Linked DNA regions of Homo sapiens: regions 2 and 3 are each linked to region 1. Evidence: fine-mapped QTL for protein levels in blood plasma. Region 1 holds a variant in brackets. A gene starts in each other region. All regions are shown on their reverse strands. Region 1 has its middle 55 kb from the start of OBP2B. Region 2 holds the start of FCRL1 (Fc receptor like 1). Region 3 holds the start of TNFRSF1A (TNF receptor superfamily member 1A).

Evidence for each region. PIP is the chance, under the fine-mapping model, that this variant and not a neighbour inherited with it causes the effect. The UK Biobank Pharma Proteomics Project read protein levels with antibody pairs (Olink). The fine-mapping took linkage between variants from a reference panel, not from the people measured, so its PIPs are less certain.
Region 2: it holds the start of FCRL1, and the variant in region 1 is fine-mapped to the plasma level of the FCRL1 protein (UK Biobank, PIP above 0.99).
Region 3: it holds the start of TNFRSF1A, and the variant in region 1 is fine-mapped to the plasma level of the TNFRSF1A protein (UK Biobank, PIP above 0.99).

Annotation. Positions count from the first base shown.
Region 1 is chr9:133,261,650-133,266,001 of GRCh38, reverse strand. It overlaps the pseudogene ABO. Among named protein-coding and RNA genes, the nearest start is that of OBP2B, 55 kb to the right of the region's middle. The variant TAGTGGTGGGCGC/C (reference allele first, on the strand shown) is at 2,628.
Region 2 is chr1:157,818,361-157,822,360 of GRCh38, reverse strand. It overlaps FCRL1 (Fc receptor like 1), which reads left to right and starts at 2,241. Exons shown (of 11, transcript NM_052938.5): 1 at 2,241-2,354. The coding sequence starts at 2,324.
Region 3 is chr12:6,338,212-6,342,499 of GRCh38, reverse strand. It overlaps TNFRSF1A (TNF receptor superfamily member 1A), which reads left to right and starts at 424. Exons shown (of 10, transcript NM_001065.4): 1 at 424-724. The coding sequence starts at 686. RefSeq lists an enhancer at 522-621.

The sequences.
Region 1 (4,352 bases):
CTGGAGTGCAGTGGTGCAATCTCGGCTCACTGCAACCTCCGTCTCCCAGGTTCAGGAGATTCTCCTGCCTCAGCCTCCCAAGTAGCTGGGATTACAGGCATGCGCCACCACACCCAGCTAATTTTTTGTATTTTTAGTAGAGGCAGGATTTCACCGTGTTGGTCAGGCTAGACTCGAATGCCTGACCTCGTGATCCACCCACCTCGGCCTCCCAAAGTGCTGGGGTTACGGGCGTGAGCCACCACGCCTGGCCTTAGTTTTTGTATTTTTAGTAGAGATGAGGTTTCACCATGTTGGCCAGGCTGGTCTTGAACTCCTGATCTCAGGTGATCCACCTGCCTCGGCCTCCCAAAGTGCTGAGATTACAGGCATGAGCCACTGTGCCCGACCTCTCTTTTAGTTATTTTTAAATGTGCAATTAAATTATTATTGACTATAGTCTCCCTGTTATGCTATCAAATACTGGGTCTTATTCATTCTTTCTATTTATTTGTACACATTAACCATCCCTACATACCCTCTCACCCCTGCCACTACCCTTCCAAGTCTCTGCGAACCATCCTTCTATTCTCTATCTCCATGAGTTTAATTGTTTCGATGTTTTGATACTACAGATAAGTGAGAACATGCAGTGTCTGTCTCTCTGTGCCTGGCGAGAAAATATTTGTAATATTTGTATTTGGCAAAGGACTTGTATCCAAAATATAGAAATAAATTCTGCTCAATAATAAAAAGAGAAACAACTTAATGAGACCCAGTGTCTACAAAAAGTAGAATAATTAGCCGGGCATGTTGGTGCATGTCTGTAGTCCCACCTAATCAGGAGGCTGAGGGGGAAAGATCACTTAAGCTCAGGAGTTCGAGGTTGCAGCGAGCTGTGATCGTGCCACTGCACTCCAGCCTGGGTGACAGAGTAAGATCCTGTCTAAAAAAAATAAAAATAGAGGGCCAGGTGAGGTGGCTTATGCCTGTAATCCCAGCACATTGGGAGGCTGAGGCAGGTGGATTGCTTAAGCCCAGGAGTTCAAGACCAGCCTGGGCAACATGGTGAAACCCCATCTCTACCAAAACCACAAAAAATCAGCTAGATGTGGTGCATGCCTATAGTCTCAGCTACTCAAAAGGCTGAGGTGGGAGGATCACCTGAGCCCAGGAAGTCGAGGCTGTAGTGAGCCATGATCATGCCACCACACTCCAGCCTGGGCAACTGGAGTGGGACTGTGCCCCCCAAAAATATATATAAGTAAATAAATAAATAAATAAATAATAAAATGAGCTAAAGATCTGGACAGGCTTCATAAGAAGCAAGCAAATGGCCAATAAATACATGAAAAGATGATTTACCTCCTTAGTCATTGGACACACTTAGATACCACTCCTCATCCACTAGCATGGCTAAAGGATAAAAGAGTGACCATCAAGTGTTGGCAAGGACTGTGGTTCTCGTACATTCCTGGCGGGAATGGAAAATTCAGTCACCACTTTGGAACACAGTTTCTTACAAAGTTAAACATACACTTACCATATGACCCATCTTTTCCATTCCTTGGTATTTACTCAAGGGAAATGAAAACACAGGTCCACAAATACCTGCACATGAGTGTTTACAGAAGCTTTGTTGCTAGTGGCCCCGAACAGTGAAAAAACCACAGTGTCTGTCAATAGGAGACAGAATAAATGAATTGTGGCGGATTAACAATGGCGTGCTTCTCAGAAATGAAAAAGAACGAACGATTGATACACGTGACAATATAGGTGAATCTTCAAAACAGCATGCGGTGTGATGCGGCCAGACATAAAAGAGCATGTATCAGAGGATTCCGTGTATGGGAAACGCCAGGGAATCAGATCCATGGTTGTCAGGGTCAGGAGGGACCTTACTGGGGTGATTACATGTGTACATACATTGTGTGAAACTCATCAAAACCGTATACCTAAAGTGGGCACATTTTATTGGATGTAAGTTATCCCTCAAATTAAATTAATTTTCAAAGTTTTAAAAAATGGAACCATTTTTGCCACATTGAAGGAAAATTATTTCCACCAAGATTTCCCTACAGCCAAACGATCTACCAACTACAAAAATGGAAAAAATAATTTAGGACATGTAAAGTTCAAATGTTTTGCCTCCCACGTTTCTGTTTCAAGAAGCTATTCGAGATAAATCGCTCCGTGGTCACAGGACTTAGAAAGGTGGAGGTAAACACACACAAGCATTATAAGATAAGAAGTAACAGATGAATTAGTTGAAAGGGACTGATTTCGGGGGAAGGAATAGGAACTGGGCCAGGAGATAGACGCCTTTCAGGCTTGCCCTTGTGAAAACGATAGTCCCCTCTTACCTGCGGGGGATAGGTTCCGAGATCCCCAGTGGATGTCTGAAACCACAGATAGTACCAAACCCTACAGAGAGTATGTTTTCTCCTGTACACACATACCTATGATAGGGTTTAATTTATAAATTAGGCACCGGGTGGGATTAACAACCATAATTAATAGTAAAATAGAACAATTATAACAATATACTGTCCGAGGCGGGTGGATCACTTGAAGTCAGGAGATCGAGACCAGCCTGGCCAACATGGTGAAACCTGTCTCTACTAAAAATACAAAAAATTAGCCAGGCG[TAGTGGTGGGCGC/C]CTGTAAACCCAGCTACTCGGGAGGCTGAGGCAGGAGAATTGCTTGAACCCGGGAGGCGGAGGCTGTAGTGAGCCGAAGGTGCCCCTTTGCACTCCAGCCTGGGCAACGAGCAAAACTCCATCTCAAAAACAACAACAAAACAACAACAACAACAAAAACAATATACTGTAATAAAGGTTACGTGAATGTGGTCTCTCTAAAAAAAAATGTGTATATATCTTAGTTTGTGGGTTTTTTGTTGTTGTAGTTTTGTTTATTATTAAGAGACAGGGTCTTGCTCTGTTACCCAGGCTGGAGTGCAGTGGTGTGATCATGGCTTACTGCAGCCTTCACCTCCTAGGCTCAAGTGATCCTTCCACCTCAGCCTCCTGGGACCAGAGGCATGCACCACTATGCCCAGCTAATTGTTTTTTTTTTTTTTTTCTTGATAGAAATGAGTTCTCACTATGTTGCCCAGGCTGGTCTAGAACTCCTGGCTTCCAGCAATTCTGCTGGCTCAGCCTCCCAAAGTCCTGGGATTATAGGCACGAGCCACGATGCCTGTCCTCAAAATATTTTACTGTACTGTACTCACCTATTATTGGCCTTTGGTTGACCATGGGTAACTGAAACTCCAGCAAGCGAAGGTGTGGATAAGGGAACTACTGTACGTGACTTTAATATACATAAAATCACCTTAAAGACAATGATTGTTTCCAGAACATGAGCCTCTGAGACAGCAGGGAGATACTAGGGGAAGTTGGTGGCTCCTCTCCCTGGCAGGAACTGGTCTGGGCTCCTGGCTCAGCCTGGCCATGAGGCTGTCCTGGCCTCCCTCGGTGGGTTCGACAGTGACCTCGACGTGCTCATTTCAGTGTGGTTCATTCCGGTCTCCCAGGGGAAGGGGGTGCTGAGTGGAAGGAGGTCAATGGGAAGCCGGGGTGGCTCTCAGAGTCTGCAGGAGCAGTCGGGCTGATGAGCTGGGAGGAGCAGACCGCCTCCCTCTTCTCTGAGTGGGAGGAGGGCCAGATCTGGACTGGGTTTGGAGATGCTCAGGTGGGGCTCAGAGCATCACCTGTGGGGCAGAGGGACCATCTTGGCAGATGAAGGCCCGTCGCAGGGTGTGATGCCTGAATTACAAGGCGGGACAGGTAAAGTGGGGCAGGTGAGAGAAGGAGGGTGAGTGATGTGATTTTTCTACTCCTGTTTTCCAGGAAAACCAAAATGCCACGCACTTCGACCTATGATCCTTTTCCTAATAATGCTTGTCTTGGTCTTGTTTGGGTAAGACACATTTGACCATCGAGGCTGGCCTGGTTTGGGGAGAAGTGACCACAGCAGCCAATCAGACCCATGGGGCCTCCCTGAGCTCCCCAAGTATCACAGTTATCAGGGTCCTAAGGACAGTTATTGCCTGCGTCCAGCTCTGGCGGAGGGTGTGCTTACTTGCTCCCTTATTTTAGCCTCACCTGGGCAACAGGCTCATCTCACTCCCATTTAAAATTTTCCTAAGTGTGGAGTCTGGGGCTGGGAGAGCAAGCCCCTTGCCCACAATTGCGTGGCTGGGGGTGGGGAAGGCAATTCTGGGTCCCAAGCTGTTAGTCGCTTCCAGACACAGAAGGTCCCAGAACCAAGAGTGAAGTCACCTGTCACCTCTACTGGGGCATCTCTGGACACGGTCTGGAAACACTCCCTGACGTGGCCTCAGGGACTGCACTGACCAAGGCACTGGT
Region 2 (4,000 bases), not on the chromosome of region 1:
TCACGCCATTCTCCTGCCTCAGCCTCCCGCGCAGCTGGGACTACAGGCGCCCGCCACCACGCCCGGCTAATTTTTTGTGTTTTTTAGTAGAGACGGGGTTTCACTGTGTTAGCCAGGATGGTCTCGATCTCCTGACCTCGTGATCCGCCCGCCTTATGTTCAAGTTCTTAAAACAGTCTGGGGATAGGCTCATGGCTTTTCATTTCATCGTAGTATTTCATAATTTATATTCATGTTACTTTTTTGTATGCATGCATGAACTATCACATTATAAAAATAAAAGTGTGAGAGAGCTTAACAAATAAAATGTTATAGCCTTTATATCTGTGGAGGAGGAAACACATTTTAATCTGAACATCTTGTGAAGGCACTGGAGCAGGACACACAGGAAGAGATGTGATGAGAATCAACCTAAGACCCCAACAACAGATGAATCCATAAAGAAAATGTGGTGTATATATACAACGGAATACCATTCAGCCATACAAAATGAAATCCTGTCATTTGTGACAACATGATGAAGCTGGAGGACATCATGTTAAGTGAACCAAGCCAGACACAGAAAGACAAATACCACATGAACTTACTTATATGTGGAATCTGAAAAAAATAAGAAGTTGATATTATGGAAGTATAGCATAGAATAGCATCTATCAGAGACTGAGGAGGGAATGAGGAGGGAAGAGAGGGAAAGATTGGTCAACAGGTACAAGGTGCCAATTCGATAGGAGGAATAAGGTTTGGTGTTTTATTGCACAGTAGGGTAACTATGGTTACTAGTAAGGTATTATATATTACAAAATAGCTAGGAAAGAGGCTTTTGAATGTTCTCACCACATAGAAATGAAAACTGCACGAGACAATGGATATGCCAACCACCCTGATTTGATCATCACTGTACAACATATATATGTATTATATTGCAATGTCAAACTGTGCCCCATAAATATGTACAATTACAATGTGTCAATTAAAACATTAAAAAAACCAACAGATTAAAAGAAAAAGAGAGAGATGAAACAGCAGAGTGTATGCAAAAACAGCTTTACACCCTGGATTTAAAGGGCTCTACATTCTCATTCAGGAGATTTTTTTGCATTGGTCCTGAAACTTTACACTAAACAAGCTTATCCCCACACAGGCTTTCCTAAGCCAATAAATAAAGCTATGGAATACCTATTCGTTTTCAGCACTTTCGCTGTTAGCCTGGTTACCAACATTGCTCCCTTTTCCCTCTGGTTTTGCGTATCACTGAATAGTTTCTTTTCTCAGTCATACTCATTGAGCTGGATACCTGGACTTAGACATCATTGCCTGACAGCATCTTTCCCCTAATAGGTTACTTTCCACACATTCTAGTTATTCTTAATCCTAGACACTCACGGATTTAAGAAATGTTGAAAATTAAGATAGCTTATTCTCCTCCAATCCCTAATCTAGGCTTCACTTGCCTAGAACTGGTATCCCTAATGTGCTAAAGGTAGCAATGGGAGAGATTATAGGTGCCCTGATTTTGAGGGAAAAGAGGGGCAATTTTACAAATGCCAGAGTTAGTACTAATGGTGAACCCTTCTCAAGTGCCCTGAAGCTAATTTGCATATACTTCTTTTCTGTATTTCATTTTCAAATATCCCCCAGATTGTAATTTGCCGTGATTTTATTTTTCAGTGATTTCATGCTCATTTACTGGTACACTGAAAGTTTGAATATCAAAGCGTATATCTGTATGAATAGGTTGACCCTGTACATAAGTCATCATATGCAGCAAGGGTCAGACACTACACATAACCGGGGTGACAGCCCCATCAGTCCCTGATTTAATGACATGTTTGCATAATATGACTATACTAGAGAAAGTTTGCATAGTGGGACTATATTGCTGAGCAAGAAGAATGTGCCAATTAGAAACAATCCAGGAGACATCCCTATCAAAGGTGAAAAGTATTGTAGATGTATCAAAGATGAATTTCAGCAGGACCATAACCTGATGAGACTCATCAAAGTAGGAAACTGCCTTTAGAAAACTTCCTTTGAAATACCTGAATTCTTGAAAAAGTCCCTCAAATATTGATGTGTACTATCTGCAGCTTGTGGAACTGAATCAAACTATATTTAAAAAGGAGCATCTTTAATTTTCTCAGACTTCATAGAAAAGGAAATGGAGACTGGTCACTAGAGGGTTCTTCTTCCTTCTACTTCTGCTGAAGGGTAACTTCCGATATCAACTTCCTCAAACCTCTGATGAGCTGCTGCTGCTCGACTCTGAGGTGCATTCTTTTTTTGATGAGAGGCATCTCTAGGTACCATCCCTGACCTGGTCCTCATGCTGCCGAGGCTGTTGCTGTTGATCTGTGGTGAGTTGGGCAACTCAGAGCAGGGCATGGGATGCAATCATGCTTGGGCTCTGCTTCCTGAAGGGCTGTAAGGACTTCTTAGGACTAAGGTTCTGTCAGGTAATGCTCAGGGGTGCTCAGATCTCCACTTCCACGGAGGGCTCAGAGTCAGGCAAAAAGTTGTAGATATTTCAAAAAGCCAGAGTTTTCAAGAAAACTATCATTTCAGTTTTTATCTCATAGGAAGTGTTCACTGTCTGTCTTCCTTTCCATCAATAATTGTCTTTGTTCTCAGTGTTTTCAACAGCTGCCAAAAGAAAAATCTGTATAATAAATAGGCCTCTGAATTCCTTGCCCTTCTTACTACCAACGTTATTTCCTTTTATCCCTCTCTGACTCCCCATTCCCACAGTCAAACCTTAGAACTTATCATCACTCCTTTGTTTTCAGCATACATCCCCCACCCCCACTAAGTTGTGTTTCTAGCTCACTTTCTCCTGCACTCTATTTCCAACATGACTTCAATTACCCCAGGGCTACTTTTCCATTATCAGTAACTACACTTCATGTGCTCACTTCTCATGGTGCTCAGCTCAGATTCTGCAGCTCACCACCACAACACTCCCTCGAGCACACCTTCATCTCTCTTCCCCCATAGCACTCTCCTGGTTTACACGCCCTTCTGCATGCTTCACTCCTGGACATAAACAGCTGAATGGGATTTTTTTTTAAATGCACAACCCTGATGACTTATCCCCTTTTAAGTGTAGGACCCCCAAATCTCAGGTAGCCAACAGCAATGCCAGGCAATTATCCTACATGTTCACAGTCCATGTTGCTCCATTATCACTATTGCATACCTTATCCTGTCACCTCATACTTCTCTGTTCACTCTCATTGTGTAATCTTGCTTCATATTTCATTGAGAAAATAAAAGCAGTCAGAAGAAAACTCTCTCATCTTTCTGTTGCTGTTGACCTACTCACCTCTGCATTCACATACACTGCCTTCTCTTCCCCTACCACGAATATATTGCCCCTCATCTTGTTGATGACAAGACTCTCCACTTGTGCATTAGGCCCATGACCCTCTTACTTTCTCAAAAAGTTTGCTCCATCATCAATATGTTTCTTCATTCTAAATTATTCCCATAAGTATACAAACATGCTACAGTATCTTTTATTAAAAACAGCTTTATTGAAATATTATTCACATATAATACAATTCACCATTTAAGTTATGCAATCCAATGGTTTTTTATGACAATCACTGAGTGGTGCAACTATCACCACAATCAATTTCAGAATGTTTTCATCACCCAAGAAAGAACGCCATACCCACTAGCAGGCATCCCCAATTTTTTTTCCAACGCCTCACCTATCCTCACCCCTCTATTTTCTGGCCACATGCAATCATTATCTACTTTCTGTCTCTCTATATTTGTCTATTCTGGACACACACCCCATATCTAACTGTAATTATATATCCCTTGAGCAACATTTCCCTCATTCCTCCTTCCCCACTATTACCCAAGCTTCTTGTAACCATGATTCTGCACCGTCCTTCTATGAGATCAACGTTTTCAGATTCCACATGAGTGAGATAATGCAGTACTTGTCATCCTGTGCCTACCTCATTTCATTTAACATAATATCCTTCAGGCTCAC
Region 3 (4,288 bases), not on the chromosome of region 1:
TCTGAACAAATCCTTACAGGAACCCCAGGAGACAGGTTATCTCCACTCTGCAAATTGGAAAACAGATCCAGACAGTTTCAGTTATGTGTCTGAGAAGTTCATTTATGTGTCCAAGACACATTCTTAGCTAAAAAGCTAAGCATTCTGAATTGGAACCCAGAGAATTTGACTCCCAGACTCTGGATCTTTTCACTGCTGTGATCCATCTGGGAAAGGCTAGTGATGTGGGCAAGGGGCTTATTGCCCCTTGGTGTTTGGTTGGGAGTGGTCGGATTGGTGGGTTGGGGGCACAAGGCAGCCAGATCTGGGACTCCTGTGCTTGTGACTGGACTACAAAGAGTTAAAGAACGTTGGGCCTCCTCCTCCCGCCTCCTGTGGCCTCCTCCTCCAGCTCTTCCTGTCCCGCTGTTGCAACACTGCCTCACTCTTCCCCTCCCACCTTCTCTCCCCTCCTCTCTGCTTTAATTTTCTCAGAATTCTCTGGACTGAGGCTCCAGTTCTGGCCTTTGGGGTTCAAGATCACTGGGACCAGGCCGTGATCTCTATGCCCGAGTCTCAACCCTCAACTGTCACCCCAAGGCACTTGGGACGTCCTGGACAGACCGAGTCCCGGGAAGCCCCAGCACTGCCGCTGCCACACTGCCCTGAGCCCAAATGGGGGAGTGAGAGGCCATAGCTGTCTGGCATGGGCCTCTCCACCGTGCCTGACCTGCTGCTGCCACTGGTGAGACCAGGGACAAAGGGAAGAGTGGGCTGGTGGGCGAGGCACCTTCCGGCTGGCGTGGGCCCTCTCCGGGAGGGGGCCGAGCCTCTCCTGCCCGGGCCTGGTCCTGGCGCCAGCCTCAGGCCTGCAGGTCCTAACCTCAGCCACTGCCAGTGTGGGGTTCCCCATTCATCCGCCTTTTGGAGTAGGGGCTGCGCTGAGGCAGGGGAATGGGAGAAGTTTGAAAGGGAGAGAGTAAAAGGAAGCCCTGGCCCCTGACAGCGGTGGAAGTTTGTGGGCGGCCAAGGGAATGTGGGCAGGAGATAGGCCCAGGGTGGGGCAGATTTGGCGGGGAAAAGAAGGGAGTGGGAGTAGGAAGATTAGTGCTCGGGGAGTCCAGACGGTTCTGAATTCTGTCCCTCCGGTCAGCTGGCTGGCCTGGAGGGTGTTGGGCCGTGGGGAGGCGAGGCTGCCTGTGGAACTTGGTGGAGCACACCCTGTAGGGCAGGATTTTGGCGGCTGGTGAAGTGGGGGAGTGAGTTGAGGAGTGGGGATGGGCTGGTGTGGTGGGTTTGGGATGCTCATGGTGGGAGGTATTTGAGAATGGGCTGGGACACTGGATGGGGCAGGGCAACCCAGTGGACAGTGTCCCCAGTGCCCTGGCCAAGCCCCGGCCTCTCACCTGGGGACATTCTTTACCCTTTTGCCTGCTGCTAGGCAGGTAGCCGCTGTGGGACTGAGCCTTCCCAGGGAGCTAGTCCTACCCCCACCTGGTCAGTGTCCCTGGGCCTGTCCTCCAGCTTCCCCTCCCCGCTGCTTCTCACAGACCTAAACAACAATCCCTTGGTTTCTTATTCTACAGTTCAGTTTGGGGAAGTTGGTAGAAAGTTGTTTTCGTCACTGGAAAATGTCCCTTTCTCTGGCCTCAGCCTTGTTTCAATGTATCCTTGATCGTCCTCCACGTCTTGGTCCGGGAATCATCCTGTTCAGATGTCCTGGGCCCATCTAGTCAGGCAGATTTTCCCTGCCCTGCCCGGCCTCTGAAGGCTGCGCCTACCTCCCCTCTCTTTAGTGCCTTATACTCTTCCTCTCCTACCATTCCTTTCTTCCAGCAATCTCCCCAGACTCTCCTCAGACTTCTCAGAGCCTCTTTTTTTGAAATCTTTTCTCGCTAATCCTCCTTCCCCTCCTCTCTGCTCCGCTCTGGTCCCGGCCCCAGGTCCCCAGGCAGCACGTCTCTGGTCAGGGTCTCACTCTTCTTCTTCTGCCTCCTCCTGCCTCCTTAGTCCCACCCGCTCTTCCCTTCTTCCCACTGTCCTTCCCCCACGGTCTCCCCACCAGCCAGCTGCCCTGACATCCTGCTTCTGTTTTCTGTTTGGGGGCGGCCCCTGGCTCCCTCACATACCTCCTGCATGAACAAGAGCAGCTTATATAACCTAACCTTCCATGCCTTCGTTTCTTTATCTCCAAAATGGGTGTCACAGTCTTGACCTCATACTGTTGTTTTGAAGATTGAATAGACTGATACATGTTAAGTGTTCATTTGATTTATTAAGTGTGCGCTCTGGGCTAGACACTGTGATAGGTGCTGGGATTACAGCAGAGAACAAAATCCCTGCCCACAGCTTTGACAGTCCATCAGGGGAATAGGTTGTAGCAAATAGAAAGCACTCAATAAAGTTTTTATATTGCTGTGACTAGTAGTAATTACTGGGTGGCTACCTGTGTTGGGAAAACAGAGGGTAAAGGTAGCCTGAACAGGTAAAGGGAAGTGCCTGCGTCCTGGGGTGCTTCAGCCCAGGTGGGATTATGTCTCCTAAGGGACAGAAGCCTGGCCTGGAGCTGGAGGAAAGGGAAAACAAAGGGAATGCAACATCCTTCTGAATTTCTCACCATTCAGTGGGCAATGCAGAGCTCACAGTGTGTGTGTGTGTGTGTGTGTGTGTGTGTGTGTGAGAGAGAGAGAGAGAGAGAGAGAGAAGTGGGGTAGGGGAGTAGGGAAGAATGATACAGGAGAGACTGTGGCAAAGCAAACAGGATTTTGCTGCTCTCAAAGAGCTTACAGCCTAGTAACCAAGATGGCTTACAGTGAAAAATGATTTCAGAGCAATCCCGAGGAAAATATCCACAAATGCATTGTGATGTGGTGTCCTGGAGCACCAGTTGGGAGGAGGAGGAACTGGGGAAGGAGGTGAGCCTTAGTCCACTGCCTTTCCTTGCTTAGCAGGTCTCAGCTCCTGCGCTCAGCTCCAGAAAATTCAGGAGCTTCCCCACGCTGCTTCAGTGTCCTTCACTGTGCAACTGCAGCACTCCCTGTATAGATCTCAGTGCCTACAACTGACTGTCTTTGACTCAAGTGAGAGCTCTTGAGAGCACGAGCTGTGTATTATCCACCTCAGCATCCCTAGCACCCATACGGGACCTGTCACATTAACTGTGCCCCTTAACTATTTGCTGAAGGAATTAAGGAACAAGAGATGTGTCAGATGGGATGGCGGAGGGAAAGCCTCATAGAAAAGTGGATGTGGAGCTGACATCTGAAGTCACTGCCTGTCAGGGTAGCTATAAAGGAGGGAAGCAGAGTTGGATACTGATGTGAGGAAGAGGAGAGGAATGGAGAGATGGGATTTTGTGTTGATGGGCAGGGTGGCAGGAAGCCAGACACCTTGGTTCGGGAGTGGAAAAACCATGTTGAGAAACACTAAGAAATGTGAATGGGAGAATTAGAGGGAGTGGGGGAGAGGATGGAGGAAGAGTGTTGAATATGGTTCCAGGTGGAGGAATTCATTCATTCGTTTATTCAGAAGCTGTTCTCCTAGGGCACATTCTGTGCCCAGACTGTGATTAGAAGTGAGGTGAGGCATCTCAGATGGGTGCTGTGGTTCATGCCTGTAATTCCAGCACTTCAGGAGGCCGAGGTGTGTGGATTGCTTGAGTCCAGGAGTTCGAGACCAGCCTGGGCAACACAGCAAAACCCTGTCTCTACAAAAAATACAAAGATTAGCGGGGCATGGTGGGGCGTGCTTGTCATCCCAGCTATTCGGGAGACTGAGCTCGGGAGGACGGCTTGGGCCCAGGAGGTGGAGGTTGTAGTGAGCCCTGACCACACCACTACATTCCGTCCTGGTGGTGAAGGTTGCAGTGAGCTATGATTGTGCCACTGCACTTCACCCTGGGTGACAGAGTGAGACCCTGTTTCAAAAAAAAAAAAAAAAAAGTAGTGAGGCATCTGTGGAAGTCTTCAGATCATTTCCATGACCATGGAAATGCTGTTTGGAGCCAGGCCCTGGAGATGGAGAGGAAGGTTCACACACTTGTGCGTGCAAGTTAAAGCCTGAATGAAGATTTAAAAAGTGTGTAGGACGGATGGGAGCAGGAGAGAGGCTAGAAGACACTTGCAATAACCCAGGTGTGAGGCAACCCAGGAATGCGGAGAGGACCGAGAGATCACAGGGGGAGGCCTCGCAAGATGAACTGACACATGGGATGGCGGCAGGGATAGGGATGGGGCCCTGGGGAGAGAGCGTGGCAAGTTCTCAGCATTCGTCCGGGAAGTCGATGGTGTGTCATTTGTCTAGGTGAGGA